Linked DNA regions of Homo sapiens. The protein of the gene in region 1 interacts with the protein of each later gene in a pairwise test. Each region holds a gene or a part of one and is shown in the gene's direction. Other genes may lie near its edges. The genes, in order: P4HA2 and PRRC2A.

What was found.
Region 2: the proteins of P4HA2 (region 1) and PRRC2A interact in a two-hybrid assay, tested with the Homo sapiens proteins (one study listed by BioGRID and IntAct).

What each region holds. Positions count from the first base shown.
Region 1 is NC_000005.10:132,202,994-132,211,113, reverse strand, and holds part of P4HA2 (prolyl 4-hydroxylase subunit alpha-2 isoform 2 precursor), read left to right. Parts: intron 1-590; coding exon 591-830; intron 831-1,782; coding exon 1,783-1,976; intron 1,977-3,229; coding exon 3,230-3,406; intron 3,407-6,961; coding exon 6,962-7,032; intron 7,033-7,266; coding exon 7,267-7,366; intron 7,367-8,120. UniProt on the Homo sapiens protein: Catalyzes the post-translational formation of 4-hydroxyproline in -Xaa-Pro-Gly- sequences in collagens and other proteins.
Region 2 is NC_000006.12:31,629,793-31,637,912, forward strand, and holds the end of PRRC2A (protein PRRC2A), read left to right. Parts: coding exon 1-53; intron 54-798; coding exon 799-1,009; intron 1,010-1,346; coding exon 1,347-3,200; intron 3,201-3,586; coding exon 3,587-3,855; intron 3,856-3,994; exon of another isoform or gene 3,995-4,066; coding exon 4,067-4,197; intron 4,198-4,443; coding exon 4,444-4,573; intron 4,574-4,679; coding exon 4,680-4,765; intron 4,766-4,960; coding exon 4,961-5,185; intron 5,186-5,339; coding exon 5,340-5,480; intron 5,481-5,601; coding exon 5,602-5,673; intron 5,674-5,789; coding exon 5,790-5,957; intron 5,958-6,174; coding exon 6,175-6,257; intron 6,258-6,416; coding exon 6,417-6,627; intron 6,628-6,717; coding exon 6,718-6,816; intron 6,817-6,940; coding exon 6,941-7,153; intron 7,154-7,249; coding exon 7,250-7,344; intron 7,345-7,441; coding exon 7,442-7,532; intron 7,533-7,653; coding exon 7,654-7,794; 3' UTR 7,795-7,979; downstream 7,980-8,120. UniProt on the Homo sapiens protein: May play a role in the regulation of pre-mRNA splicing.

The sequences.
Region 1 (8,120 bases):
CCTTGGTGTCTCTCACACCACTCCCGCTCCCTCTGTTTCTCCTATCTTTAGTTCATTCTCAGGGTTATTCATTGTCTGTTCTTTCTGGGTAGGTGCTCCCTGGAGCTCTGGCCTTAGTCATCTTCTCCATTCTTTCCTCAGAGTTCCTGCAAGCTATTTTCCTCACCCATGGCTTGGTTGCCACCTAAATTTATGTTTTTTATATTCAGCTAATTTTTCCATCCTCTAGACTCATATGGCAAACTGCCCACCAGACATCTTCTTCTCTGTGGTCCACAGGACCTTCCCACTGTCCTCAACAATGCTTCCTGGTGGGTTTCTGGGGCTCCCCCTAAAAAGGCCCCTTCCCACTTGGGAGATGGGGAATCTGAGGCTAAGAGGTGGCTGTGAACCCCAGTCCAGGGCAGGGCTGGGCCATCTGTCTGTGCTCACTGTGTCAGTGGCCCTTTAGGATATGCAGTCTAAATGTCCGATGGAGTTCTGCTTGGTGATGCCCCCTATCCAGTGGCTCAGGCTTTCCTTGAAGTGGGAATCTCTTTCCCTAATCCAGAGGCTCTTTGGAGCCTGACAATTTACTTCCCCTGCTGTAGGAACCAAGTACCAGGCAATGCTGAGTGTGGATGACTGCTTTGGGATGGGCCGCTCGGCCTACAATGAAGGGGACTATTATCATACGGTGTTGTGGATGGAGCAGGTGCTAAAGCAGCTTGATGCCGGGGAGGAGGCCACCACAACCAAGTCACAGGTGCTGGACTACCTCAGCTATGCTGTCTTCCAGTTGGGTGATCTGCACCGTGCCCTGGAGCTCACCCGCCGCCTGCTCTCCCTTGGTAAGGAGATTCTAGGGGAAGGTAAGATGGGAATGGAGAGTGGCAGAGGAACTGCACTGTGCTGGCATCTGCCTGACCCCTCTCCTGGGACTGAGTCAGTTTACCCTGTCACTTGGCCAGTGACTAATGCCTTACTGACTTTAGGACCAGTCCAGCTTCTTACTAGCTCCTTACCCACCTCAATCCTGGCCTTAGGTTTGCGCAGTCGCTGATAGATACGCTCAGGCCTGTGGCACTTGTGGGCCTTTTTAATAAGGACTCTGTTATGGTGTATCTGTCACCATGCAGGACTACACAGGGTGGAACCTTTACTACATCAGGAGCAGCTCAGGAGTCAGGTTGTACTTTAGGATTGTTACAGTGACAAACAGTAGCGGTGCTATTAGAGGCCTGAGGTCTAATAGTAGGACTTCATATGGCATTGATACTTTGTGTGCCTTGTGCTGTTGGACTGAAGAAGGCCAAAAGCACTGTGCCTTTAAAACTCATCTACCTTTTTTTTTTTTTTTTTTTGAGACAGAGTCTCACTCATCCAGCCTGGAGAGCAGTGGCACGATCTCAGCTCACTGTAACCTCCGCCTCCCGGGTTGATGAGATTTTCCTGCCTCAGCCTCCCAGGTGGCTGGGATTACAGAGGCACATGCCCCATGTTGTATTTTCTTTAGTAGAGATGAGGTTTTACCATGTTGGTCAGGCTGGTCTCGAACTCGTGACCTCACGTGATCCACCCGCCTCGGCCTCCCAAAGTGCTGGGATTGCAGGTATGAGCCACCGCACCTGGCCTCTGTTGGTTTTCCAGTTACGACCAGCGTACTCTGGTTAGATGCTGTGGAAGGTAGAATGCAGCATGCAGGTGAGCTGCTGGGAGAGAAACCCTTACAGAATAATTTCTCTAAATGACCTAACAGATGTTTGTGGTTTCCTTTTCCTTCTCATTCCTTGCATTTTCTAGACCCAAGCCACGAACGAGCTGGAGGGAATCTGCGGTACTTTGAGCAGTTATTGGAGGAAGAGAGAGAAAAAACGTTAACAAATCAGACAGAAGCTGAGCTAGCAACCCCAGAAGGCATCTATGAGAGGCCTGTGGACTACCTGCCTGAGAGGGATGTTTACGAGAGCCTCTGTCGTGGGGAGGGTGTCAAACTGGTGAGATGTGTGAGGGGGCTAGGGTGCCAAAGCTGTGGACCTGGACTCTGGCTCTGGGCAGGCAGATTTGGGGAAGGTGTTCTTTATTCTGTAGGTACTTTTCTCAGTATATCCCCCAGTTTTTCATGGCATCTCCTGAGGCTGACATGTGGATATTCTCTGAGGTGTAGGAAAGGAGACTCTCTCCCCTCGTGCCCCAGGTAGAGTGTTGCTCCTCTAAGTTACCAGTGAGCTCGCCTCCTTACCCCAATATGTCCCACTTTTTGCTTCACTCACTGTTGGGAAGAAAACAATGGGTGGACGTACCTCAGGCCCCAAAAGAAGTCATGGTATAAGTGGAGAGTAAGTCTCTGTGGTAAAGACACCAGCGTGTACTAGAGCTTGGTATCGAGCCTTTGAGAGCCCTGGGATCCTAGTGCTTCCTGAGGAGGCCCAGGTGTGACAGGCTCTGAGCCTTTTCCATGCCCCTGTCTGCATGGCTTCTACTGGCTCCTCCACCAAGAAAGGTTTCTCCCCTGTCCCAGCCCTTCAGACCTACTCAAGTCTTCACGAAAAGGGTCAGGAATTACTTTCTGCCATGGGACTTGAGGATGTGAGGTGATTTTGGGAGAGAAGAAAAATTGCATGATTTGTGGGGTGTTATTTCATGCCAGTTAAGCTGAAGGGGCTCTCCTCTCCTCTCCCCTCCCCCCATTCCCCCCTCTCCTCCCCTCCCCCCCTCCCCTCCCCCTCCCCTCCCCCTCCCCTCCCCCTTCTCCTCCTCTCTCCTCCCCTCCCTCCCTCCCTTCCTTTCTTCCTTCCTTTTTCTTCTCTTTTTCCTGTTTCCTCTTTTTCCTTTTCTTTTCTTTCTTTCGTCTCACCCTGTCGCCCAGGCTGGTGTGCAGTGGTATAATCATAGCTCACTGCAGCTTTGACCTCCCAGCCTTGAGCAATCCTCCTGCCTCAGTCTCCTGAGTAGCTGGGACTACAGGTATGCACCATCATGCCTGGCTAATTTTTTAGAGACAGGTCTATGTCATCTAGGCTGGTCCCAAACTCCTGGTCTCAAGCTATCCTTTGGCCCCCCAGAGTTCTCGGATTACAGGCATGAGCCACTGTGCATGCCCACCTGCTGGGACTTTTGTTTTCTTCTGTGGTGTGGTGGGAGGGAGCAGCTGCTGGCCATGAGGTGAGTCCAGTGTCTGCAGACAGCCAGACTGGGACCGAGGATTAGGACTCACTCAGCTCAGGGCCTGTTACTCTGTGCTTTCCAGACACCCCGTAGACAGAAGAGGCTTTTCTGTAGGTACCACCATGGCAACAGGGCCCCACAGCTGCTCATTGCCCCCTTCAAAGAGGAGGACGAGTGGGACAGCCCGCACATCGTCAGGTACTACGATGTCATGTCTGATGAGGAAATCGAGAGGATCAAGGAGATCGCAAAACCTAAAGTAGGTGTCACTGTAGGTCCTTCTCGGGTCACTGAAGGGGGAAGGTCCTTTTTCTCATCCCTAGCACTATGGGTGGTTGGTTTGCCCATCTAGCCACCCTTTATCCATATCTAGCATGGGCCTACCGTGGGGATACAGAGATGCTTCAGACTCAGCCTGACCTTGTGAGTTCATGGTCCAGTGGAAGAAGAACAGGGTAACCAATGTGGACAGCCAAGTGCTATCATAGAAGGTCACGCTGGGAACAGGGCAGGTCTACACTGGTGTGTCAGTTCACCTGGTTGGGAGACTGGTGCGTGGGTGAGTTTTTTGGAAATGTTCCATAGGATGCTATGAAGCTGGGTCCTGTGGAGCTCCTGATTAGGACTGTAAATGAGGTGAATGACTTAGAGGAGAATGTATATCTTTATAATATTGGGTCTTCTCATCCAAGGGCATGACAGGTCTCTCCATATCTTTTTAAGTTTTCTTCATATAAGCCTTGAACATTTCTTAAGTTTATTCCTTGGTAGTTTCTTTGTTACTGTTAATTTACTTTATTTCTTCATTATTATTTTTAACTGGTTACATTATTTTATTAGTTTACTATTATATGCCAAACTATTGATTTTACAAATACATTTCATAGTAAGAGCTAATGTTTACTGAATTCTTAACTGTGGCAGGAACTTCTAAGTGCTTAACATATATATTAAGTGTTATGTCACAGTTATGAACAGCTGCTCATAATGATGTCACTGTCTCTGTTTTACCTATGAAAAAGCAAACTCATACAGATTGCAGCTAGTGGTTGAATTTACTTATTTCTTTTTTGGTTTTTAGCTGATTTCTCTTTGGTTGCCTGGATAGCATTAACACCTGGAAATAAGGAAAATTTTATTTTCTCCTGATACTTGTAGTTCCTTTGTTTTTATAACCTTATTGAATTGCCCAGAACTTCTAGAGCATAATTACGTAGAATAGGCATCCTTGTCTCATTCCTGAATTTCCTGGAAATTCCTATGGTATTTTACTGCTAAGAATGCAGTTGGCTGTTGGTTTTGTATATATGCCATGTTTTAAAATTATTCTTCTGTTTCTAGTTCATAAAAGATTTGTTCCCCATTTGACATCTTTCAAAGAGACCTATTTGCTGCCATATCCCATCACTGATGATTGGGAGGGAGGATTTAGCTCGATTCTCTATTGCTCTGCTCCTAATAGAATTGTAGGGGCCGAGGTGACCAGGAGGCCCGACACTCATGGAGAGACCTGAAATAGGTTCCTATCCTGGCCCCTGGACCTCATCTTGGAACAGCTTTGGCTTGAGGTACTAGGACATCTAGGGCTTTGAGTCAGTGGTTGGCATCATCGATGTGGCTGAGGAAGGGGGCTAGCCAGATATATGGAGAATGGGGACTAGGACTCCCCTTTCTACTCAGCTCCAGAGTCCTCCAGGAAAGAAAACTACTTTGTTGGTTGTGCCAGGATTTCCTGAGAGATTTCTTACCCGTTCTTCAGTTCCAGACACTGAGAACATTTCTCTGTGCATGTGTGCATATGTGTACACATGTGTGTGGCTGGCCAGAGGGTAGTGTTAGGAAAAGATATATTTGAATAGAAGCCATGCAAAGAGCCAAACAAGGTTGGCAAACATGTTTGGCTCTTAACATGGCTTCTATTCAAAGATAAGCTGACCCCTCCTTTCCGGAGACTGTGAGGGACAGATGCTATTCTGGCTTTGAAGTAGAGCCAATGAGCTTAACTTGGCCTGTGGGGAATGCCTGGCAGCTGTCTGTGGGGTCTCTGGCCTGCTTTCAAAATAGCCCTGTGCTTCCCCTGGGGCAGAGCACAGCTGCTCAGAGCCTCTTTGTGGGTGTCAGGCCAATGCTGAGGCACAGATGTTTGGATGGGGTCTGGCTGTGGCTGCAGTTTTCAGGGAGGGACTGACATGAGCTGAAGCTCAGGAAGGGCCATGAGTAGGAGCTTGGGAGCCGTCTGTCCTGCTTGTGCTGGCCATCTTACCAGATCATGCCATAGCAGCACAGTGTCCAAGTTGGTCCATCTCACCCCCTTACTAGCCTTCTGGTCCATCTACTCCTCTCCATCCCTTCTGCCACCACCTGGCCCGGGCCACCATCATCTCTTGCCCTGACCTCTGTCGTGGCCTCACTAGCCTCCCAGTCCCCACTCTGGCCCCTCATTAGTCAACTCTCCATGAGGTATTCACAGTGATCCATTTTACATTCACATTTTGAGTGTCCCTCCCCTGCATAAAGCCTTCCCCATTTCTCGTTGGCCACAAGGTTGCATCTAGTTCCTAGCCCCTGCTTGTCTCTTCAGCCTGTTCTCTCTTACTACTTCCCATAACCTTTAATCCACACCTACTGCAACACCCATTTTCATTCCCAGGCCTCTGGATTGCTGCTCTTTCCCTGTTCCTGTAATGTTCCTCTACTTGGATAACTCATGTTAACCCTTCAGGCCTCAGCTAGGTGGTCTCCTCCCCTAGGAAGCTATTCTTGACACTATACCCTGAGCTTCCACAGGATGGTAAGTTCACCCATGCTGTGCTGCAGTTACCTGACTGGTTTTCTGCTTTCCCCACTTGACTGAGTTGTAAGAGTGCAGGGGCCATGTCTCAGTTACCTAGCATAGTGCCAGGCACAAAGTAGGCACTCATCAATATTTATTGAAATCAAGGGGAAGTGTGTTGGGGTGGGAGTACCTGGGCCTATGGCCCCACCCATGTGAGGTCATGAGGACAGTCCACAGCTGAAGCACATGGACCTTTGCCATGTTGGCTGGCTCTGGGCGGCGAGTCCCCCTTGGGGTTTCACTAAGCCTAACTGTGGAGGCTGGGGGAGATGAAGTAGATGCAGGGAGTGCATGTGTAGTGTGTACCTGTATGAGTGGGTGGCTTCCAGGCAGTGGTTCACTTATTTTAACTTACAGAATCTTTTCCTGGTTTTATCATCTGACTTGTAAGGATCCCAAGGGAGCGAAAACTGTGCCATCTGTCTTTGCTTCTTGAGGCTGTGGGAACCCAGTGTGAGGTGGTGCAGCAGGAGAGTGTTTGGATGGGTTTCTTGGCAGAGGAGCCCACTGAGGTTCGGAAGGATGGTGGAACTTGACTCAATTGAGAGAAGTACATAAGGCGGAGGCTCAGGCATGGTGGCACAGTCTGAAAATGGTGGGAGTAGCTAAGCTCAGGCAGGCTGTGCTCAGGCAGGGGTGGTATGTGGGCCTGGCAAGGAAAGGGGCTAGTCAGGCAGATGCATGGGTAGACAAGGCAGGCATAATTCTGCAGGCAAAGCGGACCTGGGGAGGAGAAGGGATGAGCAGTGACCGAGCAGGGCAATAGCCAGGAACTGATTGCGGATTGGGAATGTGGAGGCCTCAGACTCTTGCCCTCAACTGGCCTGCAGGATCTTGGGGCCTTGGCTAGAGCCATTGGCTGCAAAGCTTCCTCCACTAGCATGGCAGTAAATCTGGTCCCAGTGCTCTCTGGGAAAATATTCAAGGCAAAACAAACAAACAAACAAATCAAGTCTTCCCTCTCCTCCTTCCTTCTAGCTTGCACGAGCCACCGTTCGTGATCCCAAGACAGGAGTCCTCACTGTCGCCAGCTACCGGGTTTCCAAAAGGTAAGCAAAGAGCAGGGGTTCGTAGCTGCTCAAGCCCCAACTTCAGGACTTCTCAGTGCCTACCCTAGGGATGGGTGGCTTGCCTTTTCCTGCCTGCTGGCACCTCCTCACCCCCTTGCAGCAGGCATCCTGTACTGCCTGTTCATGCTGGCCCTGACTCTGGGGACAGAGTTCAGGACCTCATGGAAGCCTGCCCTTCCGTCTTCTTTTCTCTGCCCTTTTCTTTTTGCCCAGCTCCTGGCTAGAGGAAGATGATGACCCTGTTGTGGCCCGAGTAAATCGTCGGATGCAGCATATCACAGGGTTAACAGTAAAGACTGCAGAATTGTTACAGGTACAGATAGTACCTGGGACTGTAGGAGTTGGGAAGTGGGTATTTGTGGCTAGATGGTCTCACAGGGTGTCCAGAACTGGGCCAAGAGGCCCAACTGTATGACTACTGCCTGATGCTATGAATATGGAGTGATCTCATTTTAGGAAACCAGAATTAATCATGCCTGCTGGCTTTCAACAATTAGTGTTCAACAAATATCTATTGAGCATCTGCTGTGTGCCCAAGTGTGCTGCAAGCTAGGGATCAGGGGTAGTTATGGTAGGTTCGTTCATGTCTTCTTGACAACAGAAGCTCAAATCCTGAATGGTCTCAGGGACATCTCTAAGAGAGCTAAAAATGACTTCAGAGGCCATGGTTCTGTGTCATAATCAAATACATTTGAAGGTCAAAGTATTCTGTGTGTTTTCTCCTGCTGAACCACAACTGAAGTTGCTCCAAAAGCAGCAGCAGGGGACTTCCCATGAGGGACTGCCAAGATGGGGTCAGTTGAGAATTCAAAGAAAGCGGCACTAAACCCCTGGGTCTTCAGTCCACAGCATTTATTAGGGAACTTGCAGAGTGGGCTGCAGCAATCCTCAAAATGGACAGCAAGAGACAAGAATTGTTTTACCTAAGTATTTCCACAGTGAGGGAGTCAGAGTGTGGAGTTTATTTGAGGGTTTAGGGAATTTGGTTCAGGGCTGGGGCTAGTTTCTTTCAGTGTTATGGGCAACAACCTAAACACCTTCATCAGTGCCTGGGAATGTTGAAGACT
Region 2 (8,120 bases), on another chromosome or scaffold:
CCTCCAGGGTCGTCCCCCTCTAGACTTCTACCCTCCTGGTGTGCATCCCTCTGGTAAGGGGGCATGGGAGGAGTGAGAAACAGGAAAGTCCCCTCAGTCTTAGGCATTGGATATTAGGGTCTTACTGTGACTCTGGTACGATAGGTTTTGCCCATCATAGTGATGAGGGAAGGGCATATGCTTGGCACTGCTGAGATAGCTCTGTTGCAAAAATGGGCTTAGTTAAGAAATAAGCAGTGGTTGGCCAGGCATTGTGGCTCACGCCTGTAATCCCAGCACTTAGGGAGGCCGAGGTGGGCAGATCAACTGAGTTCAGGAGTTCGAGACCACCATGGCTAACGTGGTAAAACCCCATTTCTACTAAAAATACAAAAAAGTAGCCGGCGTGGTGGCGCTCGCCTGTAGTCCCAGCTACTCGGGAGACTGAGGCAGGAGAAACGCTTGAACCCAGGAGGTGGAGGTTGTAGTGAGCCGAGATTGTGCCATCGCACTCCAGCTTAGGCAACGAGCGAAACTCCGTCTCAAAAATGAATGAATGAATAGCACAACTCCATCTCAAAAATGAATGAATGAATGAAAGAAGCAGTGGTCCTTCATTTGCCAGGATTTATTTGGGGTGGGTTGATTCTCTTGTAGGGAATCTGAGTGGATAACCTTGTTATATAAGAGCAGGCAAGGCCCGGACCTACTGGGAACAAGAGATGGAAGAGCTGACTTGACCGCGAGGGGAGATGCTTTTTGGGCTGGAGGGCTTGTGACATGAATAGGATTATTTTTCTTTTTCTTTGGTTTCTTCAGGCCTAGTTCCCCGAGAGCGTTCAGACAGTGGGGGCTCAAGCTCAGAGCCATTTGACCGTCATGCACCTGCTATGTTACGGGAACGGGGCACTCCACCGGTGGATCCAAAGTTGGCCTGGGTAGGAGATGTCTTCACCGCCACACCCGCTGAACCCCGCCCACTTACCTCACCTCTGCGCCAGGCTGCGGATGAGGATGACAAGGGGATGAGGTGAGTCTTGGTCATGAGAAATGGGTGAGTTCACAGTGAAAGGATCTAGGCCTGGGAGAAAGGTACTTTGGGTTAGTGGTAGGGATAGGGATGAACGGGAAAGGAGAGGCTGGATGGAGTGGCTCATGCCTGTAATCCCAGCATTTTGGGAGGCTGAGGCAAGAAGATTGCTTGAGCCCAGCAGTTCGAGACTAGCCTCGGCAACTGGATGCCATCTCTGCCAAAACAAACAGAAAAATAGTAAAAGAGAGTCTGCATCATAATAAAGTGTTCTTTTCCCACCTAGTTCTGGTTTTCCTGAGATACTTATTTCCATTCTTTCTGTCTGTCTCTTCAGGAGCGAGACTCCTCCAGTACCTCCCCCACCACCCTATCTGGCCAGTTATCCAGGCTTTCCTGAGAATGGAGCCCCTGGGCCCCCAATCTCTCGCTTTCCTCTGGAGGAACCAGGGCCCCGTCCACTCCCCTGGCCCCCAGGCAGTGATGAAGTGGCCAAGATACAAACTCCACCACCCAAGAAGGAGCCCCCTAAGGAGGAGACTGCACAGCTGACGGGGCCAGAAGCAGGCCGAAAGCCTGCCCGCGGAGTCGGGAGTGGAGGCCAGGGCCCCCCACCACCACGCAGAGAGAGTCGCACAGAGACCCGCTGGGGCCCTCGTCCAGGGAGCAGTCGTCGTGGAATCCCTCCAGAGGAGCCAGGGGCCCCACCCCGCCGGGCTGGGCCTATAAAGAAACCTCCACCACCTACAAAAGTAGAAGAGCTGCCTCCCAAGCCCCTCGAACAGGGGGATGAAACCCCCAAACCCCCAAAGCCAGACCCACTCAAGATAACCAAGGGGAAGCTAGGGGGCCCCAAGGAGACCCCACCCAATGGAAATCTTTCCCCTGCCCCAAGGCTTCGGAGGGACTATTCGTATGAAAGAGTGGGTCCTACCTCTTGCCGGGGTCGGGGCCGAGGCGAGTATTTTGCCAGAGGGAGGGGTTTTCGGGGGACCTATGGGGGACGAGGGCGGGGAGCCCGAAGCCGGGAATTCCGCAGTTACCGAGAGTTTCGAGGAGATGATGGGCGTGGAGGTGGGACAGGGGGACCAAACCACCCTCCTGCTCCCCGAGGCCGCACTGCCAGCGAGACACGGAGCGAGGGTTCAGAGTATGAGGAAATCCCCAAGCGGCGCCGGCAGCGGGGCTCAGAAACAGGCAGCGAGACCCATGAGAGTGATCTGGCTCCTTCAGACAAGGAGGCTCCCACACCCAAGGAGGGAACACTCACCCAGGTCCCTCTCGCTCCCCCACCACCAGGAGCCCCACCTTCACCAGCCCCAGCCCGCTTCACTGCCCGGGGTGGGCGAGTCTTCACTCCCAGAGGGGTGCCATCTCGCCGGGGCCGAGGAGGAGGGAGGCCCCCTCCTCAAGTTTGCCCAGGCTGGAGCCCTCCAGCCAAGTCTCTGGCTCCCAAGAAACCTCCCACAGGCCCTTTGCCACCAAGTAAGGAGCCTTTGAAAGAGAAGTTGATCCCAGGGCCTCTGTCCCCTGTGGCGCGCGGAGGCAGCAATGGAGGTAGCAATGTGGGCATGGAAGATGGGGAGCGACCCCGAAGGAGGCGACATGGGAGGGCTCAGCAGCAGGATAAACCGCCTCGTTTCCGGAGGCTGAAGCAGGAACGGGAGAATGCCGCAAGGGGGTCTGAGGGCAAGCCCTCCCTAACCCTTCCAGCCTCCGCTCCTGGACCTGAGGAGGCCCTCACAACAGTCACAGTGGCCCCAGCACCTCGCCGGGCAGCTGCCAAGTCTCCTGATCTGTCAAACCAGAACTCAGACCAAGCCAATGAGGAATGGGAGACTGCATCAGAGAGCAGTGACTTCACCAGTGAGCGCCGAGGGGACAAAGAGGCACCCCCACCAGTACTGCTGACACCCAAGGCTGTGGGAACTCCTGGGGGAGGTGGAGGTGGAGCCGTACCAGGTATTTCAGCCATGTCCCGCGGAGATCTGAGCCAGAGAGCCAAGGATTTGAGTAAACGGAGCTTCTCAAGTCAGCGGCCAGGCATGGAACGGCAGAATCGGCGCCCTGGCCCAGGGGGCAAGGCTGGCAGCAGTGGCAGCAGCAGTGGAGGAGGCGGTGGGGGTCCTGGAGGAAGGACCGGGCCAGGACGAGGCGACAAGAGGAGCTGGCCCTCTCCCAAGAACCGAAGGTGGGTAGGAACAAACAAATTTATTGTGGTTTAAAAATTGGAGGAGGGGGAAAAAGCCTGAGGGAAAGATAAGTTTGGGTGGAGTGGAGATTGTGGCCTGAGGGGCCATGGGCTCTAGAATGTCAGTAGGATTTCCATGTCTGGCTAAGGCAACTGGAAAGCGGTTGGTAGGGTGTTAGAGTCAAGAACACCCACCTATGTATTCATTGCTGGTTCTTTGCTTTCCAGTCTGTGCATCTGTATGCATAGGAATCCTTAGAAGGACTCAAAAACACCTGGACTTTAATAGGGAAGAGAATAGGTTGTAAGCAGAAGTTGGGAAACATAACTTGTGGGAAAAAGTAACGATTTAGTGGATACTGGAGCTAATGCTCTGTTTTCTCCAGTCGTCCTCCAGAGGAGCGTCCCCCGGGGCTTCCCCTGCCTCCCCCACCTCCCAGCAGTTCTGCTGTCTTCCGCCTGGACCAAGTTATCCACAGCAACCCTGCTGGCATCCAACAGGCTCTGGCCCAGCTTAGTAGCCGTCAAGGGAGTGTAACTGCACCAGGGGGTCATCCAAGGCACAAGCCTGGGCTTCCCCAAGCCCCTCAGGGCCCCTCTCCTAGGCCCCCAACCCGATACGAGCCCCAGAGGGTCAACAGCGGCCTCAGTTCTGGTAAGCTGGAGGGGTTATGGGTGGGAATATCTCCATCCCCAGAGAAGGTCAAGTGCTGGAGGGAGCGGGTGGAGAACCTGGCCTAGGGACCCTGCTGCTGGGTGCGTTTCTGCAGGGAGCAAGGGTAGAAGAATTGGGAGGTGGAGTAGAGAGGAAAAGTTAGGGTCAGTGGCAGAGCCAGGCAGATGCTGACCCTTTTTCTCTTTCCCAGACCCCCACTTTGAGGAGCCGGGGCCAATGGTGAGAGGGGTGGGTGGGACTCCTCGGGACTCTGCCGGGGTTAGTCCCTTTCCCCCTAAACGTCGGGAGCGGCCTCCCAGAAAACCAGAGCTGCTACAGGAGGTAAGGGATGGGTTTGAGATTGTGCTTCACTGCACTCTTACTCGTGAAAATTCTTCTGGGTTATGTTTTCTCTGTTTTCTTTCCTGTTTCTTTCACTGTGTTTTTACTCCAGAATTCTCAGTATTAGTCTCCCATGTGTCTCCCTTGTTGTCCCCACACCCTGTGTCACCCCACTCTGTCCTGGCTTCCTATAATTCCCAATTCCCACCCAATTCATGTTTTGCTTCTGGCCCTTCTCATCTGTAGGAATCTTTGCCACCTCCTCATAGCTCTGGATTCTTGGGCTCTAAGCCTGAGGGCCCAGGCCCTCAGGCAGAGTCCAGAGATACAGGCACAGAGGCCCTGACCCCTCACATCTGGAACCGTTTACATACTGGTGAGTAAAGCTGAGTGAAAGGACTATGGTAGAAGGGTTAAGAATGAGAGGGGCTTCTGAACTGTCATCTCCTCACTTCTCTTCTGGTTGGTGCTCCCTTCTCCAGCCACTAGCCGAAAGAGTTACCGGCCCAGCTCCATGGAGCCTTGGATGGAGCCCCTGAGTCCTTTTGAGGATGTGGCTGGCACAGAAGTGAGTGAGGGTGGGAGGGTGTGTCTGAGCTGGGACTTTTTTGAGCACTGGTCATACCCCCCACCTGCTCTGGGTTGAGTCTGGAGCTGTTCTCTCACTTGGCTGTCCCCTTTCTGCAGTTTGTATGTGTGCATCAGTCAGGTATTGGGGTGCTTTCTACCCTGACTTAACTAGCTCCTTCTCCACTCCTCTCAGATGAGTCAGTCTGACAGTGGGGTGGACCTGAGTGGGGATTCTCAGGTGTCATCAGGTCCCTGCAGCCAGCGAAGTTCCCCTGATGGAGGACTCAAGGGGGCAGCAGAGGGACCCCCCAAGAGGCCTGGAGGCTCCTCACCCCTGAATGCTGTTCCTTGTGAGGGTCCACCTGGCTCTGAACCTCCTAGGAGACCACCACCTGCCCCCCACGATGGGGACAGAAAGGTAAAAGACCAAAAAAGGATAAGGGGAATGTTTCCAGGAATCTGACTTTGGCCCTACCTTTTTCTGCTTTTTCTCTCTGCGTGTGTGTTCTGGGCATTCCAATTTGGATTTCCCTTTCCCTCCCCCAATGCACTTTACTGTGTGCCCAATCCAGGAGCTGCCCCGGGAGCAGCCTCTGCCCCCTGGCCCCATTGGCACAGAACGATCACAGCGTACAGACCGAGGCACAGAGCCTGGCCCCATTCGGCCATCCCATCGACCTGGTCCCCCAGTCCAGTTTGGCACTAGTGACAAGGTCTGTGTGGGCTGGATCTGGGTATCCTGAGTTGGGTGGAGAGAAGGGAAGGACTAAAGGTGGGACATAGAGGACACATGTCTGTCACGGGACAATGTCTCCTGCCTTCTTGTGATCACAGGACTCAGACTTACGCCTAGTGGTAGGAGACAGCTTGAAAGCAGAGAAGGAGCTAACAGCATCAGTCACTGAGGTAAGTGGGAGTAAGAGTTTGGTGGAAAGGCCCAAGATTTCTGGGGAAGATTGCTGGGAGTGACCAGGGCGTCCAGGATGCCAGACATCCCTCTCCACGAGGCCTCTCCTTCCCAGGCCATTCCTGTATCACGAGACTGGGAGCTGCTTCCCAGTGCTGCTGCCTCTGCTGAGCCACAATCCAAGAACCTGGATTCTGGGCACTGTGTCCCGGAGCCCAGCTCCTCAGGCCAGCGCCTGTATCCTGAGGTTTTCTATGGCAGTGCTGGGCCTTCCAGTTCTCAGGTAGGCCCCGCTTCCCATTGCATGACCCCTTCAGTGAATAATAATTTTTTTCTGCCTGGTATGTATTTATAATCAAGCCTTTCTACGTTGCAGAGTTGTGAGATACCACTTTGTCACATCATTTTTCTCCCTACTTTTTGCTTCTATGGGTGGGATGGTGATCTTTTTTCTTGACCACAGATACTAAAGCTGTTTCAACCGTGCTCCTCTCCTGCAGATCTCTGGGGGAGCCATGGACTCTCAATTACATCCAAACAGTGGAGGCTTCCGCCCTGGGACACCCTCACTGCACCCTTACAGGTAAGACTCGATGCCTGTGGATCACAGAAGTACTTGGAGATGTGTTTCGGGGAGAGGGAAGGGGAAGACACAGTTCTAGGGTACTAGAAGCTAGTGGACTTAAGGCATTGCTAGGACTCTGGCTTCCTAACAGCTTTTCTCCCCACAATTTATTTTCAGATCACAGCCCCTATACCTACCCCCCGGCCCAGCCCCTCCCTCAGCACTGCTCTCTGGGTTAGCTCTCAAGGGCCAGTTTCTGGATTTCTCCACAATGCAAGCTACAGAGCTGGGGAAGTTGCCGGCTGGAGGAGTTCTCTACCCTCCACCTTCCTTCCTCTACTCTCCGGCTTTCTGCCCCAGTCCTTTGCCTGACACATCGTTGCTTCAGGTAAGAGGGGGGCAGGTATTAGATATTGGGGGATAGGGTAGGGAGAATGATTTTGTGGGGGTTGATATATTTCTCCCTGTTTCCCGACAGGTACGCCAGGATCTGCCATCCCCTTCGGATTTTTATTCTACTCCTCTGCAGCCTGGTGGCCAAAGTGGCTTTCTCCCTTCAGGGGCTCCTGCCCAGCAGGTATATTGTATCTTCACACTTCCCCTTCATTTGATTTCTCTGTCCAGTTGCTGGCTTTGATTTTCCCTGGTTTTCTGACATTCCTCCCTGCCCCCAACATGCACACCCAAATTTCTTGTTACAGATGCTTCTACCCATGGTAGACTCACAGCTGCCTGTGGTGAACTTTGGCTCCCTGCCGCCAGCACCACCTCCTGCCCCACCTCCCCTTTCTCTGTTACCTGTGGGCCCTGCTCTGCAGCCCCCCAGCCTGGCTGTGCGGCCCCCACCTGCTCCTGCTACTCGGGTGCTGCCTTCACCTGCCAGGCCCTTCCCCGCTAGCTTGGGGCGAGCAGAGGTAAGGTACAGGAACTGAGGGGCTAGGGAGCGCCAAGACTTGGGAGTAGGGATTCTGTATTTCAAGGTAGGCAGCTCATGATTTTTTTCCCCTCAGCTGCATCCAGTGGAACTAAAGCCGTTCCAGGATTATCAAAAACTGAGCAGCAACCTTGGGGGACCTGGATCATCACGGACTCCCCCAACTGGAAGGTGAAACGGAATAGGGATGTGGACTTTCCAAGTGCTTCCTTACTTTGGAACCAGGGTCTGGATCCTAGGCTTGCCTTAGACGCCCTTCTTCCCTTAGGTCCTTCTCTGGCCTCAATTCCCGTCTCAAGGCCACGCCTTCCACCTACAGTGGAGTCTTCCGCACCCAGCGCGTCGACCTTTACCAGCAGGTGAAGGAGAAACCCTTGTGGCCCCAACTCTAAATTCGAGTTGCCACCTGATTTCCTGTCCTTCCGTCTCATCGCTGACCTCTCACTGTGACTCACTGTTTAACACATGCCTGTCCCCTAGGCCTCCCCACCAGATGCCCTGCGCTGGATACCTAAGCCTTGGGAGCGGACAGGGCCGCCACCTCGAGAAGGGCCCTCCCGACGGGCAGAGGAGCCTGGGTCCCGAGGGGACAAGGAGCCTGGGTTGCCCCCACCCCGCTGAGGGAGTTCCTCTTGCCCCCTACCCCCGGGGCTTGTATATAGATTATAAATATATAAGGGGGAAAGGGGTGGGCGGGGAGGGGTTCTGGGGCTGGGGCCTCACTTCCCCTCCTCCCCCTTCCCCTGGTCCCCTGTCCCTGGGGCTGTTTGTTAAAAAAGAGTAATAAAAGGATTTAAAAAAAAAAACTTCTACAATGATTTGGGGGATGAGTTGTTTGCATTGTCTTAAAGCATGGTGCTGAGTGATCTGTAGTTTCAGTCAGGGAAATATTCATTACTTATTCCAGTGAGCTGTTGAAACTAAAAACATGACCATCGTATTGGATC